Linked DNA regions of Homo sapiens: region 1 is linked to region 2. The links come from fine-mapping of genetic effects on gene expression. A gene starts in region 2. The other region holds a variant in brackets. All regions are shown on one strand. Distances are from middle to middle. Region 1 overlaps GZMM (granzyme M). Region 2 holds the start of CDC34 (cell division cycle 34, ubiquitin conjugating enzyme).

Region 1 (9,406 bases), 21 kb before region 2:
AGTGAGCTGAGATTGCGCCACTGCACTCCAGCCTGGGTGACAGAGCGAGACTGTCTCAAAAAAAAAAATTCGAGAAGGGCCGTATGGCTGAAAATGTCTCTTGAATCAAATTCCCCTGCCCCGACCTCAGCCTTTGTGGACCTTTCTGTTTGGGGTCCCGGGGCCCCCACTTTGTCAGCGACCATCGTGCCTCTGCGCTTTGTTCTGGGACCGAGCCTGGGCACCGGCCTCTCCACAGGCTCATCCAGCTGCCTGAGAATCCTGGGGCCCCACGCTCAGCAAGGATGAGGACAGCAGCTTCCCCACCTCAGGGCGTACGTGGGCATCAGATGAGGCCTTCTGGCATTTACCACGGGACGACAAGCGTCTGCGTCTTCCCAGGGAGAACGGTGCCCCCCAAAACTCACGCCCACCCAGAACCTCAGAATGTGGCCTTATTTGGCAGAGGTAGTTAGGATAAAGTTGTAAGGGTGGCCCTGAGGCAATGGCTGGCATCCTCATCAGAAGAGGGACATTTGGACTGAGACATGGGGAGACGTCCCTGCGGGGACAGAGGCAGAGACTGCAGCAATGTGGACACAAGCCAAGGACGCCTGGCGCCCCCGGAGCTGGAGAAGGCAGGAGGACTCCTCCGTGGGGCCTCTCAGAGAGCGGCGCCTGCCCACACCTTGACCTCAGACTCCGGGCCCCAGGACGGGGAGGGGCTGCCTTCTGTTGTTTAAGTCACCCAGCATGTGGTCCCACGTCACTGTCAAGCTCCCGGGTGACACCTGTCCAGTTTAAACCACCTGAGACCAGAGCTCTGCCCACCGGCCACCCGGAGATGCTCACTCGGCTGTTCCCTTTTACACCAGGAGGAACCAGCGAGGGCTGGCAGGGCGCAGTGGCTCACACCTGTCATCCCAGCGCTTTGGGAGGTCGAGGCGGGAGGATCACTTGAGCCTAGGACTTTGAGACTCCATTAAGCAACATACTGAGACCCCATCTCGGCAAAATTACAAACATTAGCCAGGCGTGGTGGTGCACACGTGTAGCCCCATCTCCTCAGGAGGCTGAGGGAAGGGGATTGCTTGAGCCCAGCAGTTTGAGGCTGCAGTGAGCTAGGATTGCACCACTGCGCTGCAGCCTGGGTGACCCTGTCTCAAAAAAAAAAAACCACGAAAACACAGACGGAGGGGTGGAGGCTTCCAGGGCACTGCGTGTCCCACACAGGGTGTCAGCCTCCTGCTGGTGGCTGGTTCTGTGTCTCTAAGTCCCCAGTCACTCACCGGGGCTGGGGTGGGGACATCTCAGCACAGCAGGAGGGAACCACTGATGAGGCACGTCCGGGCTCAGAGATTAGCTCTCTCCCCGGGGCGTGGCTCCAGCTCACCAAACACCAGCCTGGCCTGGCCTCCACTGATCTCTGTCCAGTTGGAGTCACCCCAGGACCCAGTGGGTGGGGTGGGTGGGGTGGGGCGGTGCCCTGTGACCTCTGGAGGAGGCTGGAGAGGAAGCTCAACCCTTGCCTCTGAGCATTTTTTTGTTTGTTTTTTTGAGATGGAGTTTTTTGCTCTTGTCGCCCAGGCTGGAGTGCAGTGGCGCAATCTTGGCTCACTGCAACCTCCGCCTCCCGGGTTCAAGCGATTCTCCTGCCTCAGCCTCCCCAGTAGCTGGGATTACAGGCATGCGCCACCACGCCCGGCTAACATTGTATTTTTAGTAGAGACGGGGTTTCTCTGTGTTGGCCAGGCTGATCTGGAACTCCCGACCTCAGGTGATCCGCCCGCCTCGGCCTCCCAAAATGCTGGGATGACAGGTGTGAGCCACCATGCACGGCCGCCTCTGAGCATTTCTGACGGGTCCACCCCACTGGGCTGGATGCTTCCTCCTTCCTAGCCTCCCTGCCTCTACATCAGGGTCTCCCTTGAGGATGTCAAGGAATAAGGAAAATCGCAGCTTCCGCTGGGTACGGTGGCTTACACCTGTCATCCCAGCACTTTGGGAGGCCGAAGCGGGTGGATCACCTGAGGTCAGGAGTTCGAGACCAGCCTGACCAACATGGTGAAACCCCATCTCTACTGAAAATACAAAAATTAGCCGGGCGTGGTGGTGGGTGCCTGTAATCTCACCTACTCGGGAGGCTGAGGCAGGAGAATCACTTGAACCCGGGAGGAGGAGGTTGCAGTGAGCCGAGATTGCGCCACTGCACTCCAGCCTGGAAACAGAGACTCCGTCTCAAAAAAAAAAGCAAACAACAACAACAAAAAAAAAAAAAACAAAAAAAAAAACACCACAGCTTCTTTTAAGCACGTGCAGGGGCCGTGTGACTGTGGGACGTGACAAGGAGCTTCTGTCCAAGTTTCCGTGCGGGAAAGAAACACAAACGTCTGCGAAGTTCACAGCAGCCCAGGTCACGGCAGCCAAAGGTGGAAACAGCTCACCCATCCCTCGAGGGCAGTGAGTGGACAGAGGCAACGTGGTCCAGCCGTACCACGGAAGGACACCCCACCCCAAAATAACAGCACCAGGACGTGCCACCCCAAAGTGTACTTGTCCTGCGTCGTTCGAGCTGGTGACTCCCAGAAACCGCAGGCTCAGGACTAGCTCTGGACAAGTGCTCTTTTGTAAAATAAGTTCACGTCCACGAAGGACATCCACGCTGGCAACACACCTGCACCAGGAAGAGGGAGAGGGCTGCCCCGGGCAGCTTTCATTGCCAAGAGGCCTGGCTTTCTTTTTATCTTTTCTTTATTTGTTTTTATTTTTAATTTTAATTTTTTTGTATTTTTAGTAGAGACGGGGTTTCACCATGTTGGCCAGGCTGGTCTCGAACTCCTGGGCTCAAGTGATCTACCAGCCTTGGCCTCCAAAAGTGCTGGGATTACAGGCGTGAGCCACCGTGCCTGGCCTTTTTATCCTTTTTTTTTTTTAAAAAAAAATGAACACATGCCGGGCGCGGTGGCTCACGCCTGTAATCCCAGCACCTTGGGAGGCTGAGGCGGGCGGATCACGACATCAGGAGCTTGAGACCAGCGTGGCCAACATGGCGAAACCCCGTCTCTACTAAAAATACAAACAGTAGCCGGGCGTGGTGGCGGGTGCCTGTAATCCCAGCTACTCGGGAGGCTGAGGCAGGGGAATCGCTTGAATCTGGGAGGCGGAGGTTGCGGTGAGCCGAGATCGTGCCACTGCACTCCAACCTGGGCAACAAGAGCAAAATACTCTGTCTCAAAAAAAAAAAGAACACATAATAATTGTACATATTCATGGGGTACATAGTGACGTTTCAATACATACAATGTGTGCTGATCAGACATTAACATAGCTAGAGTTGCAAACATTTATCATTTTTTAAAAAATTTTTTATTTATGGTTTTTTTGTTTTTTTTTTTCTGAGACGGAGTCTCGCTCTTGTCGCCCAGGCTAGAGTGCAGTGGTGTGATCTCAGCTCCCTGCAACCTCCCTTTCCCGGCTTGAAGTGATTCTCCTGCCTCAGCCTCCCAAGTAGCTGGGATTATAGGTGCCCACCACCATGCCCAGCTAATTTTTTTTGTAATTTTCGTAGAGACAGGGTTTCACCATGTTGGCCAGGCCGATCTTGAACTCCTGACCTCGTGATCCGCCCGCCTCAGCCTCCCGATGTGCTGGGATTACCGGCGCGAGCCACCATGCCTGGCCATGAATGAACAATTTAAAAACCCAAAGGGGCTGGGCGTGGTGCCTCACCCCTGTCATCCCAGTACTTTGGGAGACCAAGGCTGGCGGATCATGAGGTCAGGAGTTCAAGACCAGCCTGGCCAATCTGGTGAAACCCCGTCTCTACTAAAAATACAAAAATTAGCCGGGCGTGGTGGCGCGTGCCTATAGTCCCAGCTACTCGGGAGGTTGAGGCAGGAGGATTGCTTGAACCCAGGAGGCGGAGGTTGCAGTGAGCCGAGATTGCACCACTGCACTCCAGCCTGGGCGACAGAGCGAGACTCCGTGTCAAAACAAAAACAAAAACAAAAAACAAAAAAAGAACCCAAACAGGCAGGGCCCATCTCTGGGGTTAGAGACTGGACTTGGGGCGGGGCGCAGTGGCTCATGCCTGTAATCCCAGCACTTTGGGAGGCCGAGGTGGGTGGATCACGAGGTCAGGAGATCGAGACCATCCTGGCTAACACCGTGAAACCCCGTCTCTACTAAAAATATTTAAAAAATTAGCCAGGCGTGGTGGCGGGCGCCTGTAGTCCCAGCTACTGGGGAGGCTGAGGCAGGAGAATGGCGTGAACCCAGGAGGTGGAGCTTGCAGTGAGCCGAGATTGCACCACTGCACTCCAGCCTGGGGGACAGAG[C/G]GAGACTCGAATCTCAAAAAAAAAAAAAAGAGACTGGACTTGGGTACTTGGCTAAGGAGGGGCTTCGGGGCAGGGGGTTGTGTCTGGACCCAGGTGCCGGGAACAGGGGCGTGCCTGGTTTGTGAGTTATGAGGCTCTTCACTTGTGACCTGAGAACCTTCCACTGCCAATGATGCCATAAAAAGTTAAAGATTAGGCCGGGCGCGGTGGCTCACACCTGTAATCCTTTAGGAGGCTGAGGTGGGAGGATTGCTGGAGCCCAGGAGTCTCTAAAAAAATAACATAAAAAAATTAAAAAAGTTAAAGATTAAAAATGCACTTGCCTCTCCCAAAAACACTGTGACTCCAGTCCAATCGAGAGAAAAACATGAGATAGCTGGCGGGTGCAGTGGTCCACACCCGTAATCTACATAAATCCCGTCCAGCCGGCCTCCAGACACGGAGTTCTGAGAAACGGTCGGAGCCTGGGGGTGCCGAGGAGAGGCTGCGGCGAAACGGCAGGTTCGGTCCCGGGTGGGACCCTGTGCAGGAAGAGACATTAGGGGAAACTGAGGAAATCCGAGCCAAGAGTAGGTCCTTAGTAGTTAATCACGCATTCATGTGAGTTCGTCAGCCGTGACTCCTGCTGACTGGAGAGGGGAGCGGCCAGGAGCCTGGGGGCGGGGACGCGGGGGACCCTGTGGATACAGCCGCCACACATCTCCTGCAGACCAAAAATGGTTTTAAAAATTAAGTCTATTACAACACTAACCCGGCCGGGCACAGTGGCTCATACCTGTAATCCCAGCACTTTGGGAAGCCGAGGCGGGTGGATTATTTGAGGTCAGGAGTTCGAGACCAGCCTGACCAATATGGTGAAACCCCGTCTCTAGTAAAAATCCAAAAAAATTAGCTGGGCTTGGTGGTGGACCCCTATGATTCCAGCTACTTGGGAGGCTGAGGCTGCACTCCAGCCTGGGCAACAGAGTGGGAACTGTCTAAAAATAAAATAAAATAATAAAAAACCATTAACGTGGGCACAGTGGCTCATGCCTGTAATCCCAGCACTTTGGGAGGGCGAGGTGGGCGGGTCACCTGAGGTCAGGAGTTCAAGACCAGCCTGGTCAACGTGGTGAAACCTGTGTTTCTATTAGTCTCTACTAAAAATACAAAAAAAGTTAGCTGGGCGTGGTGGTGCACGTCTGTGATCCCTCAGCTACTCAGGTGGCTGAGACACAAGCATCGCTTGAACCTGAGATGGCTTGCAGTGAGCCGAGATCGTGCCACTGCACTCCAGCCCGGGTGACGCACTGAGACTCCATCAGAAGAAAAGAAAGGAAAATAAAAGAAAAAAAGAAAAGAAAAGAAAGAAAGAAAGAAAGAAAGAGAGGAGGGGAGGAGAGGGGAGGGGAGGAGAGGGGAGGGGAGGGGAAGGGGAGACGGGGAAGAAAGGAAAGAAAGGAAAGAAAGAAAGAGAGAGGAGGGGAGGGGAGGGGAGAGAAGGGGAAGGGAGGGAAAGAGAAGAAGGGGAAGGGAGGGAAAGAGAAGAAGGGGAAGAAAGGGAAGAAAGAAAAGAAAAGAAAGAAAGAGTTGGTAGTGAAATTAAAAGATTCTGCAGGAAAACAGCGCGGCGCTGAAACAGAGTCACTGAACAGCCCGAGATGCCACTCCCACGGGTCTAATCTGGAGGGAGGAAGGAGCAGGTAGGTCCACACGAAAACGCACACAGGCGGCTCCCAGCAAAGCTTCAGACGGACGGACGCAGACGAAGCCGCCCAGATGTGCACCCAGGGACGCACCCACAAACGCAGCGAGGCCCCCCTCGAGCTGGAGCTCGACCCCCCGGAGCAGGAGCACGGCTCGGACCCAGCCAGCGCGCGGGTGCAGCTTGAGGACGTCACGCTCAGCGGGAGACGCCAGACACAGAAGGCCACGCAGCGTGATCCCCTGTCCATGAAATGTCAGCACAGGCCCATCCAGAGACAGGGAGGGGATGTGAGGGCACCGGGGCTGGGGTGGGGACGGGGAGTGACGGCCGATGGGGACGAGCCTCCTTTTGGGGTGCTGGGGTGACAGTGGGGACAGAGTCTATTTTCGGGGTGCTGGAATGACAATGGGGGTGGGGCTTCCTTTTGGGGTGCTGGGGTGATAGAGATGGGGCCTGTTTTCGGGCTGCTGGGGTGACAGTGGGGACAGGCCTGTTTTCGGGCTGCTGGGATGACAGTGGGGACGGGCCTGTTTTCGGGGTGCTGGGGTGACAGTGGGGACAGGGCTGTTTTCGGGGTGCTGGGGTGACAGTGGGGACAGGCCTGTTTTCGGGGTGCTGGGGTGACAGGGGGACAGGCCTGTTTTCGGGGTGCTGGGGTGACAGGCCTGTTTTCGGGGTGCTGGGGTGACAGTGGGGACGGGCCTGTTTTCGGGGTGCTGGGGTGACAGTGGGGACAGGCCTGTTTTCGGGGTGCTGGGGTGACAGTGGGGACAGGGCTGTTTTCGGGGTGCTGGGGTGACAGGACTGTTTTCAGGGTGCTGGGGTGACAGGGGACAGGCCTGTTTTCGGGGTGCTGGGGTGACTGGGGACGGGCCTGTTTTCGGGGTGCTGGGGTGACTGGGGACGGGCCTGTTTTCGGGGTGCTGGGGTGACTGGGGACGGGCCTGTTTTCGGGGTGCTGGGGTGACTGGGGACGGGCCTGTTTTCGGGGTGCTGGGGTGACATGTCACGGTGGTGGTTGCCCAGCTCTGTGCAGGTACCAAAGGCCCCTGAATCGCAGTTTACAGGGAGACTCATCTGCTATGTGAGTTGTAACTTGATAAAAGCTGTTACTAAAAAAGAAGATCCTGGGATGCTGTTCAAGGCCCAGCCCCAGGAGCCACGCGGGGAGGACGGCCGCCCACCCCTGCCAGCCTGCAGACCCGGCCACCGCTCCAGTCCTGGCCAACGCCGCCCCCTCCTGGGAGAAGCCTTGGGATCCACAACCTCCCTTTTTAAAACAGGGAAGGGCCGGGCGCGGTGGCTCACGCCTGTAATCCCAGCACTTTGGGAGGCCGAGGTGGGCAGATCACAAGGTCAAGAGTTGGAGACCAGCCTGACAAACATGGAGAAACCCCTTCTCTACTAAAAATACCAAAAGTTAGCCTGGCGTGGTGGCGGGCGCCTGTAGACCCAGTTACTCGGGAGGCTGAGGGAAACAGGTTTGTCGGAAGCCCCACAGCCAGCATGGACAGAGGTGGGCTGGGACTCAGGCGGGCTCTGAGCGTTTCTTCATTATGATTTATTGGTCCCTCCCTGTCCCTCCCACCCGTCCTCACCCACCCCACTGCACCCCTGGAGGGGAAGGGTCCTGTGGAGACAGCGAGGGGGTCCCCATCACCCCAGGGCATCAGGCCGATCGGCCGGTGACCTTCCTGATCCAGGACACGTAAGGCGCCACAGCGGTGGCCACGGGAGGCTTGAAGATGTCAGTGCAGACCCTGGAGCTGAAGGACAGGACTCTGGCCAACACCCGGCCTTTGCCACACACCAGGGGCCCGCCCGAGTCACCCTGCAGGGACGACACACCGCAGCTCAGCCTCTGCACCTGCTGAGGGGACGAGGGGAGCAGGGCCCGCCGAGGGGAGCAGGGCCAGGCCTGTTATCCCCAGGCTCAAGGAGACACAGGGGCTGCTCCCGGCCCACGCGTGTCCCCTCCCCATCTCCCGCTGGCCCTGTGAACCCTGCTCCTTCTTCCCCCGCCGGACCGTCTTGGCTGGAGCAGAAGTCACAGCTCTGCCGCTTCCCGGCTGTGTGGTCTTGCGCAGGTTGCTAAACCTGTCTGAGCCTCAGTTTCTGCACCTGAGAAACGGGACCCCTGCCAGTGCTTCCCCGCCCCCCAGCCCCTGACAGGACTCCCCAGAGAACGGGAGAGCCAGGAACCTGCCCGGCGGCTGCCCTGGCCCCGGCCCTCCCGCCAGCCTCATTCCCCCAGCCCCACCCGGGCGCCCCTCACCTTGCAGGGAGCCTGGTCCTTGGAGTCGGCCGCCAGGCAGACCATGCTGGGGGAGAGGCTGCCGTTCCAGAAGCGGCTGTTGTTACACATGCGGGTGTCCAGCACTTGGAGGTCCAGCTCCCGCAGCACCCGGGACAGGCGCCCGCCCTGGTGGGTCAGCCCCCAGCCGGCCATGCTGCACCGAGTCCCTGCTGCCACCACCTGGCGCTTACTGGGCAGGGCCAACGGCCGGATGGTCCGGCTGGGCTTCACTTTCCCGTCCAGCTACGAGTGACAGGAAGGGGCAGGTGAGCAGGGGGAGGGGGTGAGAGTGCGGGGGCGGGGGGCGGCAGCGGGGGGAGGGGTGGCAGTGGGGGGAGGGTGGGCAATGGGGGAGGGGGCAGTAGTGCGGGGGGAGGGGCAGCAGTGCGGGGGGAGGGTCGGCAGCGGGGGGAGGGCGCAGTGGGGGTGAGGGGCACCCGTGGGGGACAGGAGGGTGCCCAGTTCTCCCTGTCCCGTCCCTGCACACCTGAAGCAGCGCGAGGTCGTTCTCCAGGGCAGGGACGGGCTTGTAGCGAGGGTGCTGGATGGCTGCCTTGATGTGGAAGGTGAGACCGGGGCTGTCCAGGGTGTGGAGCCCCAGCACCAGCCTCAGCTGGGCCATCCTGGGGACAGAGGGAATCAGGGTGCTGCGGCCTGGCCCGGCGTGGACGACCCGCCACATGCAGTCCCGGCCCCCACTGTGCCCGTTGTCCATGGCCATCACTCACAGCCGCTGCCCCTCACAGGCCTTGGCTTGGCCAGTCCTTCCCTGTGTCTTTGCAACCCACCTCCTCCAGGAAGCCCTCCCTGCTCTCACCCCTGCCCCAGACTTCTGCCCGGCCCTGGCCCCAGGCAAGGGCTGTGTGTCCAAAAATCCAACCCCAAGCCTACAGCTTCACGAAAACCAGCCCTGGGAATTCCCTTCACTTGGGGCCCCAGGCTCAACCACAGTGATTTGTACAGGGGTTGACACATGCCAATCCTCCTAAGTGTGCCCCAACTTTAGAGAGCCAAGCCCTCTTTCCATGGGACTGAGGAGGGTCAATCTTTCCACCTTGTGAGACAGGCTTCCTGGTAGTGCAGCAGAGCTGGGAGACAGATGGGCTC
Region 2 (9,406 bases):
GGCAGGTCCCGAATCAGGCCTTGGCGCCACAGCCTGTGGGGGAGCCCGGCCTACCTGATGGTCTGGGTGGATACGGGACGGAGCCCGGCCTACCTGATGTTCTGGGTGGACACAGGGGGTTGGGCCGGCTTACCTGACGTTCTGCGTGGGGTTCCACCTCTCTGAGGGCAGCTCCCCGCTCTGGGGGTCGTCCACCGGCGGGTGGAGGATGGAGATACACACGTCCCCCGTCTGCACAAGAAGAAGACAGGTCAGAACAGGTCAGAGGTCAGCACGGGCTCCCAGTGCCCCAGGTCCCGGAGGATGAGGACGTGGAGGACGAGGACGTGAGGCTCCCAGCGCCCCGGGTCCCGGAAGGACGAGGACATGAGGCTCCCAGCGCCTCGGGTCCCGGAAGGACGAGGACGTGAGGCTCCCAGCGCCCCGGGTCCCGGAGGACGAGGACGTGAGGCTCCCAGCGCCCCGGGTCCCGGAAGGATGAGGACGTGAGGCTCCCAGCACCCTGGGTCCCGGAGGATGAGGACTTGAGGCCCGTGGGGGCCGCGCTCACCTCGTAGATGTTAGGGTGCCACATCTTGGTCAGGAACCGAAAGGCTGGTGGAGAGTATGGGTAGTCGATGGGGAACTTGAGGCGCGCCTGCAGGGGCAGAAGGCAGGTGGCTCAGTCCAGCCCAGCCCCAAGACCTGCCCCAGCTCACAAGGTGCCCAAGGCCATCCCACTCCCAGTGCTGGTGCCTGAGGGTGTGTGTGAGGGACACCGTATCCTGCCCAAGGCAGGGACTCTCACAGGCCTGGGGTCAAGTCCCCAGAAGGCTGCCTGAAGCCTTTTCTGAGTCACCCGAGCTGATCCCAGCTCCTACACAGTCCAGGTGGCCGGGACCCGGCCCAGCACAACTGCTGGGGAACGTGGGCACTGGCTGCCCGCGTGGCTCCAGGCCCGTGGCAGCCCAGGTCAGGCATATGGGACCCAGGCCAGGGGCACCCACCAGCAGACAGAATGGACTGGCAGGGGCTCCAGGCTCCCCTTGGATGGAGCTGAAGCCCAGGACCAGGGCTGCACCTCCAGGGCCTTGGCAGCCAGGGTGTGGGGAGGGTTAGCACAGATGATTGCTCAGTTAGCAAACACTTGTGACACCTGCCCTGGCCCAGGCCGTGGGAGGGGATGAGTCAGTATGGCCGTCTGCCCTCAGGTGTCCGGTCTTGGGGGGTCAGGCAGGCAGACCCATAGGTCACAGAAACCTGGCAGGACTCCTTCCCTGTCAGCATCGCCCCCTGTGGTCACCCAGGCCCTGGAGGTCCAGATCTGCTGGCAAGGACGGCCACAGAGGGAGGCCTGAAGCCACGTGCCAGGTGACAGAGCTGTCTGGCCTGCAGCCTGGGGCGTGATGCCACCCACGGCCCTCCTGGGCCACAGCAGGTAAACAAGGAAGCCTCACTGTTTTCCTGCTGGGCCCCAGTGCCAGACACAGAGGTTGTCTGGGTCAGGGGTCCTGGTGGCACTCAGCACTCCAAGGCACGAGAGCAGCACCCCCAGAGCGATCGTGGTGGAAGCCTGGACAGGGAGGGCACTCAGGGGGTCTTGGATCGTGGGCGAGGTCTGGACAGGGAGGGCACTCAGGGGGTCTTGGATCGTGGGCGAGGTCTGGACAGGGAGGGCACTCGGGGGTCTTGGATCATGGGCGAGGTCTGGACAGGGAGGGCACTCGGGGGTCTTGGATCGTGGGCGAGGTCTGGACAGGGAGGGCACTCGGGGGTCTTGGATCGTGGGCGAGGTCTGGACAGGGAGGGCACTCGGGGGTCTTGGATCGTGGGCGAGGTCTGGACAGGGAGGGCACTCGGGGGTCTTGGATCGTGGGCGAGGTCTGGACAGGGCGGGCACTCGGGGGTCTTGGATCGTGGGCGAGGCCTTGACAGGGAGGGTACTCGGGGGTCTTGGATTGTGGGCGAGGTCTGGACAGGGAGGGCACTCAGGGGGTCTTGGATCGTGGGTGAGGTCTGGACAGGGAGGGCACTCAGGGGGTCTTGGATCGTGGGCGAGGTCTGGACAGGGAGGGTACTCGGGGGTCTTGGATTGTGGGCGAGGCCCCTCCCGGACAGGCAGGGCACTTTGGGGGTCTTGGATCGTGGACGGGCCCCTCCTGGACAGGGAGGGCACGCGGGGTGTCTTGGGGGGTGTCCTCTGTTTGACAGGGAACTCACTGGTGCCCCGTAAGGCAAGTGACTTGGCCGCGGCCACAGAGCAAGGCTGGAACTTCAGTCTCAGAACTGTCCTGCGGTTCCCCAAGACTTCAGGCCCCCCAAGCCTGGTGCTGGGTTTCAGGCGGCAATCCTTGACAACAGCCAAGGCCTCATCTGTACCAAACCCCACCAAGTCCCAATGAGCCTCTTATTTTGGGCACCTCTAAGAATGTCTTTTCCCCGGAGCAAACCCAGGCTCAGAAAAGGAAAGCGCCCTGCCAAGGGCAGACAGCAAGTCGGCTGTGGAGGGCTCTCTCTGGCGGCCCCTGCCCCAGGGCTCACTTTGGCTCCTGAAGGAACAGCAGCTGCAGGCAGTGGCTGGGCAGCAGCGGCCCTGGGCACTCAGCAGGTTCTGTATTTCCACGCTCCCCCAACTCCCTCCCAGGCACAGCGGGAAGGGAGAGTCCTCGTGGGTGGCAGCACCCCCGTCTCAACACTGGCTTCTGAGGACTGACCCTGTGGCAGATGTCTAGAGGCCCCCTCCCTGGGAAATCCGGAAAACCGGATTATCCCCTAATGCTGGCCCAGGAAGCTCTGCCCACAATCCCTGGCAACCGGTCTGGTGGGCACAGCAGCCAGAAACCCCCATCCCCTCCTTCCAGAACAGCAGCCGCCTCACAGGCCTGGCTTCGAGGTGGGGCTGCGGCTCCTCAGCCAGCTGCTCCCCCAAGCAGACAGAAGGGGCTGGCGGAGGAGCTGCTAAAACCATTTGGCAACCTCGAGACCCAAACTCTGTTCCCTGTGTGGGGACGCAGGATTCCAGATGCAGAACCCACGGGCGTCCCACTCTCTGCTCAGGAATCGCCCCCAGCAGACCAGGCTGCTGCCCTCACAGCCGCTGAGCGGGTGCGGTTCAGACACTAATTAGCTCGGAGAGCAGACACATATCGTGCGGGAGGCATCGGTCCCTCGGCCCCACGCCCGCAGCTGGCCGGGGCAGAGCGGGCCGGGCCCTGCAGTGTCGTGTCGTGTCCAGGCTCTTGGCAGGAAGTGACGGTGGGAGGGGGAGATTCCTGGACAGGGTGCTCGTTCCCCACCGCTCACACAGGGCCCCTCGCTTTGTCCCTCTGGCCCCAAGAACGAGGTCCCTGAACGCTAAAAGAAGTCAAAGGTCACGTCTGGATCGTGAGATCAAGAAAACTGCCCTGGTTTTGGCCTGAGTCCTTTTCACATGAGACAGAAACAGCCTCCCCGCTCCCAACAACAACAAAAACATCCAGAAACTGCTTGGAATTAAACCGCCAGAGGGCAGAAGAAACGGCCCAGAACTCGGGGTTTGGGTCCCAAGAAGCCACCTGTTCAGTGGACTCTGAGAAAGGCCAAGACCAGCTGGGATGAGCGAGCCCGGAGCTTCTGAGGTCGGGGTCCGGGACGCGGGCCCGAGCCGGGAGGCCTGGAGAGAGCTGCAGGGAGCAGGTGGGAGGCACGCCCCTACTTCGGCCTTCCCGAGGGCGCAGGTTACATAAAGCAGGGGATGGAGCCCAGGGCGCCTGGCCGGCTGCTACTGGCAAGGGTGGCCGCTTTCCAGGCGGGTCCTGGCTGCCAAGGCTCATCCGGGCCTTTGTTGGAGACTGAGCGAGTGGCCGCGCCAGCCACCCCCAGGCTGGCCTCGCTCCCCCGCTCACGGGCCCAGCTCCCCAACAATAGCAGCTACGGGGTCTGGGGGGGCCTCTTTGTCTCCTCCGGGGAGGGCGGGGAGGGCAGCTGAAAGGCCGGCGCGGCCTGGGCTCCGCTCCCTCTTTCTCGCAGGGGCGGAGGGGGAGGCAGCCGGGGTCCAGCCCCCGCCAAGGAGGAGGTGGGCAAGAGCCCCACGCCCAGATGCTACAGGGAGGGCCCCCGGCCACCCCTCCGGGGGCCAAGAGCCTAACAGGGGACCGGACGATGCCTTGAAGGGAACTGGGGATTTTCGAGGACTGCAGCAGAGGCTGAAGGTCCCCGAGACGGTCCGAGGAGGGGGCCGGGCAGAGCTGGGTGGGGGAACGTGGCCATAGAAGGGAAACGAGCCCAAGCCAGGAGGCTTCGGGGCCCGCCCAGCAACAGCGCTAGGACCGCGGGGCAGGGAGCTGGTTCCCGGCGCCCGAGGTCGCTCGTGGGCTCCGGGACCCGGGCGGGGGTCGCCGCGCTCACCTTGAAGTAGCCGCCCTCGTAGTAGGTGTTGGGGGGCCCGAAGATGGCCACCTCCCAGTTGTATAGATCGCCCTCGTCCACCAGTGTCACGCGGAATCCCTCGACCGGCTCTTCCTGCAGCCCCTTGAGCTCCAGCAGCAGCGCCTTCTGCGAGCTGGGCACTAGCGGCCGAGCCATGGCGGCGGCGGAGGGGCCCGGGGTCGGAGCAGCGCGGGGCCGCGCGACCACCGCGAGTTCGCGAGACGGGCCGGGCCGCGCACCGTCCGGGGGGGAGCCACCGGGGCCGCCGCCTGCCTCCTCCTCTGCGCCGCCGCCGCCGCCCGGGGACCCCGAGCGCTCCAGCAGCTCTGGCGCCGCCGCCCCACCGGCGCTTGCCTTGGCCGGGCCCGCGCGCCCCGCCCCCCGCTGCGCCTGCGCGCACCGCCTGGCCCCGACTGCGCCTGCGCTCCGCGGCCAGGTCCGACTTGCGCCTGCGCGCCCGGCCGCAGGGGACGCCGGGAGGTGGAGTCCCGGCCCCGGTCCCGCCTACGGCGCCGAGCGCCTCCGCCGGGAGGGAGGGTTCGAGCGCGCAGCCCCGGGCTCTTCCGATCCCCGAGGCCGCCGCCGTCGCCCCCTGCTCGACCAGCACCGCGGACGCTGTGCGCAAGGAGGCGGGCAGGGCTGCTCTGCGCCGTCACCGGCCCGGTCCCCCGGCTTTGGGGTTGTTTTGTGACGTGCCGGCGCGGGGCGGGGCCGCGGGCGGTGAACGGGGCGCGGCGCGGGGTCCTGACCGGGACCGGAGGGGCAGGGCCGGTCCATCCGGCGCGACCCCGCGTCCCCGTCTCCGTTTCCCCGTCTGTGCAGGGGACGGGCGCGAAGTCTGTCCTAGGGTCGCGCTGGCCACGCGGAAGGGAGGAAGGGGCGGGAGCGAGGCGGGATCCGCAGACCTGGCTTCCAGGCGCGGCGCTGCCTCGGTTCCCCCGACAGCGGGAGCTCTGAGAAGTGGGCGAGGTCGGGGAGGGCTCTGAGGGGTGGGAGGGGCGAGGGCTTCCCTGGTCCCCGTTGAAGTCACCATGTGGTGTGAGGCGAGTGCAGGCGCTGGAGCCATCAGAGGTTGGCAAGGTGCTCCTGCCCCCCAGAGAAACTGGGAAAGAGGCCTACGCCGGCCAGCATCGGCTCAGCACCTGACCCGGGAGAGGCGCCAGCCCCACGGAGCCCCCACCCCAAGCTGAGCCCGAGCCTGGCTGTGCCCTCCTCCCAGCCTGACCTTTGTCCTACCCGAGTCTTTTTTTTTTTTTTTTTTTTAAATGAGACAGAGTCTCGTTCTGTGGCCCAGGCTGGAGTGCAGTGGCACAATCTCACTGCAACCTCCGCCTCCCGGGTTCAAGCTAGTGTCCGCCTCAGCCTCCCGAGTAGCTGAGATTACAGGTGCCCGCCACCACGTCCGGCTAATTTTGTATTTTAAGTAGAGATGGGGTTTCACCATGTTGGCCAGGCTGGTCTCGAACCCCTGACCTCAAGTGTGTTGTTAGGTTTTGAAAGGAAGGGGAGGATGCAGTTTGGACTAATAAAGGGATCCGTCTGCGTCGGCCTCCCAAATGCTGGGATTATAGGCATGAGCCACCGCGCCCAGCCCACCTGAGTCTTGACCCCAGCTGATTCCGGGCATCACTGTGACCCCACCTGACTTCTGACCTGGCTCAGTGGCTGCCCAGACACCCACATGCTCCTTGCTGTGAAGCTTGGTCGGGAGAACTGGCCGTGGTGAGGACGGGGCAGCCCAGCCTCCCCTGAGTCGTGCCCGTGACGGGTGGCCCTGCCCTCGGACTGTGCCAGTGGCATTGTTGCTATGCCCTGGGTACACACAGCTGCATCAACATACAGGCCGGGCACGGTGGCTCACGCCTGTGATCCCAACACTTTGGGGGGCCGAGGCGGGCGGATCACAATGTCAGGAGATCGAGACCATTGTGGCTAATATGGTGAAACCCCGTCTCTACTAAAAATACAAAAAATTATCTGGGCGTGGTGGCGGGCGCCCGTAGTCCCAGCTACTCGGGAGGCTGAGGCAGGAGAATGGCGTGAGCCCGGGAGGCGGAGCTTGCAGTGAGTCTAGATAGCGCCACTGCGCTCCAGCCTGGGCGACAGAGACTCCGTCTCAAAAAAAAAAAAAACCAAAAACAAAAACCAGTCTGGGACCAGGGCCACTCTGTCCCGCAGGTGCCCCAACACCTGGCCCCGGCTTCATGAGTCTGGTCCCCGGAAGAGGACCAGCAGGCAAACCTGTCTGGGGAAAGGAAAACAGCATCAGGAGTGGAGAGGGAGGGAGGGATCCAAGAAAGAGCTCTGGGCCGAGCGGTCACTTCCAGAGCTGTCCAGGGCCGAGGCCGAGGCGTCCTCACCCGTAAGGGCCTCTGGGCCTCCTCCCTCAGGCCCCTCTGCCCGGCACCCTGGGGGCCTGGAGTAAAAGGAGGGTCTCGGGACTAGTGGGGCCTTCTGGCTGTGGCCCCTTCACCAAGGTTCCCAGGGTTTTGTGAGCCTCAGTCTCTTCCGTGCCACAGGTCGTGGATATATTGCCAGCATCATGGAGCCGGCAGGCAGCAGCTCATGGGTAAATTAATGCTAATTAGAATTAACCACGATTCCTTCTCTAAGGGCTCCCAAGATCTCTCTTCTTCCGTACACCCACATCCCAGGAAGCACTGTGTGGGTGAGGGAGGTTTTCTTTCTCTCGCTTTTTTTTTTTTTTTTTTTTTTTGAGAAGGAGTCTTGCTCTGTCGCCCAGGCTGGAGTGCAGTGGCACGATCTTGGCTCCCTGCAACCTCCACCTCCCGGGTTCAAGTGATTCTCCTGCCTCAGCCTCCTGAGTAGCTGGGACTACAGACGCATGCCACCACGCCCTGCTAATTTTTTGTATTTTTAGTAGAGAAGCGGTTTCACCGTGTTAGCCAGGATGGTCTTGATCTCCTGACTTCGTGATCCGCCCGCCTCGGCCTCCCAAAGTGTTGGGATTACAGGCGTGAGCCACCGCGCCCGGCCTGGGTTGGGGAGATTTTCAAGCCCCTCCAGCTGGTCCCACAGGGCCCCGACCCCCAGGGAGGCTCAGGCTCACAGCACCCGGGAGCGGTGGACACCAGGGGCTTCCACCTGCCTGCTTGGGGGCTCCCTACTCTGTGGGAACGGGTTCGAATTGGACTGACGCAAGCCCTGGCTGCAGGGAGGGGCCATCCCATCAGTTCCCAGGGCCCCCACCCTGGGCTGCAATGATTGGTTCAGGAACAAGCATGTGACTCCTGACGTCCAATGAGATTCAGCTCTGGGACATTTCTCTGGGATCACAGTGCTGGGGTGGCTGAGCTGGAAGGACCTGGGGCTGGAGTTACGGGGTCATGGTGTCACCACGGGGCCTCCGAACAAAGGCGGCATCACAGGAAAGCCGAGCCGGCTGATGAGAGGGGAAACGTTGATAATCCTATTAGTGATCCTGCATCATGCTGTTACCTGACCTCCCCTGGATGTTCCAATGATGCAAGCTCATGAATTCTTGCCTCTTAGTTCGTTTGTGTTGAGATGGAGTCTCTCTGTGTCACCCAAGCTGGAGTCCAGTGGCGCAATCTCAGCTCATTGCAACCTCTGCCTCCCAGGCTTAAGCAATCCTCCCACCTGTCTCCGAAGTAGCTAGGATCACAAGCGTGCACTGTCACACCCAGCTAATTTTTGAATTTTTAGTAGAGATGGGGTTTTACCATGTTGGCCAGGCTGGTCTCGATCTCTCAGCCTCAAGTGATCCTCCTGCCTTGGCCTCTTAAAGTACTGGAATTACAGGCGTGAGCCACCACGCCCAGCCTTTTTAGTTTATTTTCCTTTCCTCCCTCCCTGCCCCCGTTCCTGTTGCTCAGGCTGGCCTTGAACTCCTGGGCTCAAACAGTCCTCCCACCTCAGCCTCCCAGGTAGCTGGGACCACACGTGCACACCACCACAACCAGGTTAAATTCCTTCTTCGTGCCGGGCGCCGTGGCTCACACCTGTAATCCCAGCACTTTGGGAGGCCGAGGAGGGTGGATCACCTGAGGTCAGGAGTTCCAGACCAGCCTGACCAACATGGAGAAACCCTGTCTCTACTAAAAATACAAAATTAGCCGGGCGTGGTGGCACATGCCTATAATTCCAGCTGCTCGGGAGGGTGAGGCCCAAGAATCGCTTGAACCTGGGAGGCGGAGGTTGTGGTGAGTCAAGATCACGCCATTGCACTCCAGCCTGGGCAACAAGAGTGAAACTCCATCTCAAAAATAAATAAATAAGTAAAAATAAATTCCTTCTTCGTTAATTAAGCCAGTTTGAGTTAGGTTTTCCATCACATGGCAGAGAAGAACCTTAAATTCAAATCTAGTTTCTGCCACGACCTTGGAAATATCGCTCAAACATTAAACCCAGTCTCAGGTTTATTTAATTAATTTATTTATTTAATTATTTTTTTTTTGAGATGGCGTCTTGCTCTGTCACCCAGGCTGGAGCGCAGTGGCTCCATCTCTTCTCACTGCATCCTTTGCTTCCCGGGTTCAAGTGATCCTCCTGCCTCAGCCTCCCAAGTGGGTGACTTGTGCCACCATGCCAGCTAATTTTTATATTTTTAGTAGAGATGGGGTTTCACCATGTTGGCCAGGCTGGTCTGGAACTCCTGACCTCATGTGATCCACCCTCCTTGGCCTCCCAAAGTGCTGGGATTACAGACATGAGCCACCGTGCCTGGCCTATGAGTTTCAGTTTTTTATTTTATTTTATTATTTTATTTTGAGACAGAGTCTCACTCTGTTGCCCAGGCTGGAGTGCAGTGACACGATCTTGGCTCATTGCAATCTCTGCCTCCTGGGTTCAAGCAATTCTCCTGCCTCAGCCTCCCGAGTAGCTGGGATTACAGGTGCGCCACCATACTCGGCTAATTTTTGTAGTTTTAGTAGTGACGGGGTTTCGCCATGTTGGCCAGGCTGGTCTCGAACTCCTGACCTCAGGTGATCCGCCTGCCTCGGCCTCTGAAACTGCTGGGATGACAGGCATGAGCCAC

Evidence for each region. PIP is the estimated chance that this variant, and not a neighbour inherited with it, causes the effect.
Region 1: its variant is fine-mapped to the expression of CDC34 in whole blood (TOPMed, PIP 0.92).

The regions. Positions count from the first base shown.
Region 1 is chr19:548,058-557,463 of GRCh38, reverse strand. It overlaps GZMM (granzyme M), which reads right to left. Exons shown (of 5, transcript NM_005317.4): 3 at 8,787-8,922; 4 at 8,279-8,542; 5 at 7,542-7,834. The coding sequence ends at 7,673. Among named protein-coding and RNA genes, the nearest start is that of GZMM, 8.7 kb to the right of the region's middle. RefSeq lists a cis regulatory region at 464-1,702. The variant C/G (reference allele first, on the strand shown) is at 4,317.
Region 2 is chr19:527,068-536,473 of GRCh38, reverse strand. CDC34 (cell division cycle 34, ubiquitin conjugating enzyme) reads right to left here and starts at 4,714. Exons shown (of 5, transcript NM_004359.2): 1 at 4,366-4,714; 2 at 551-637; 3 at 134-231. The coding sequence starts at 4,542. RefSeq lists silencers at 594-755, 3,880-4,049, 4,470-5,209 and enhancers at 976-1,025, 1,236-1,295, 1,205-1,780, 1,781-2,357, 3,340-3,499 and 3 more.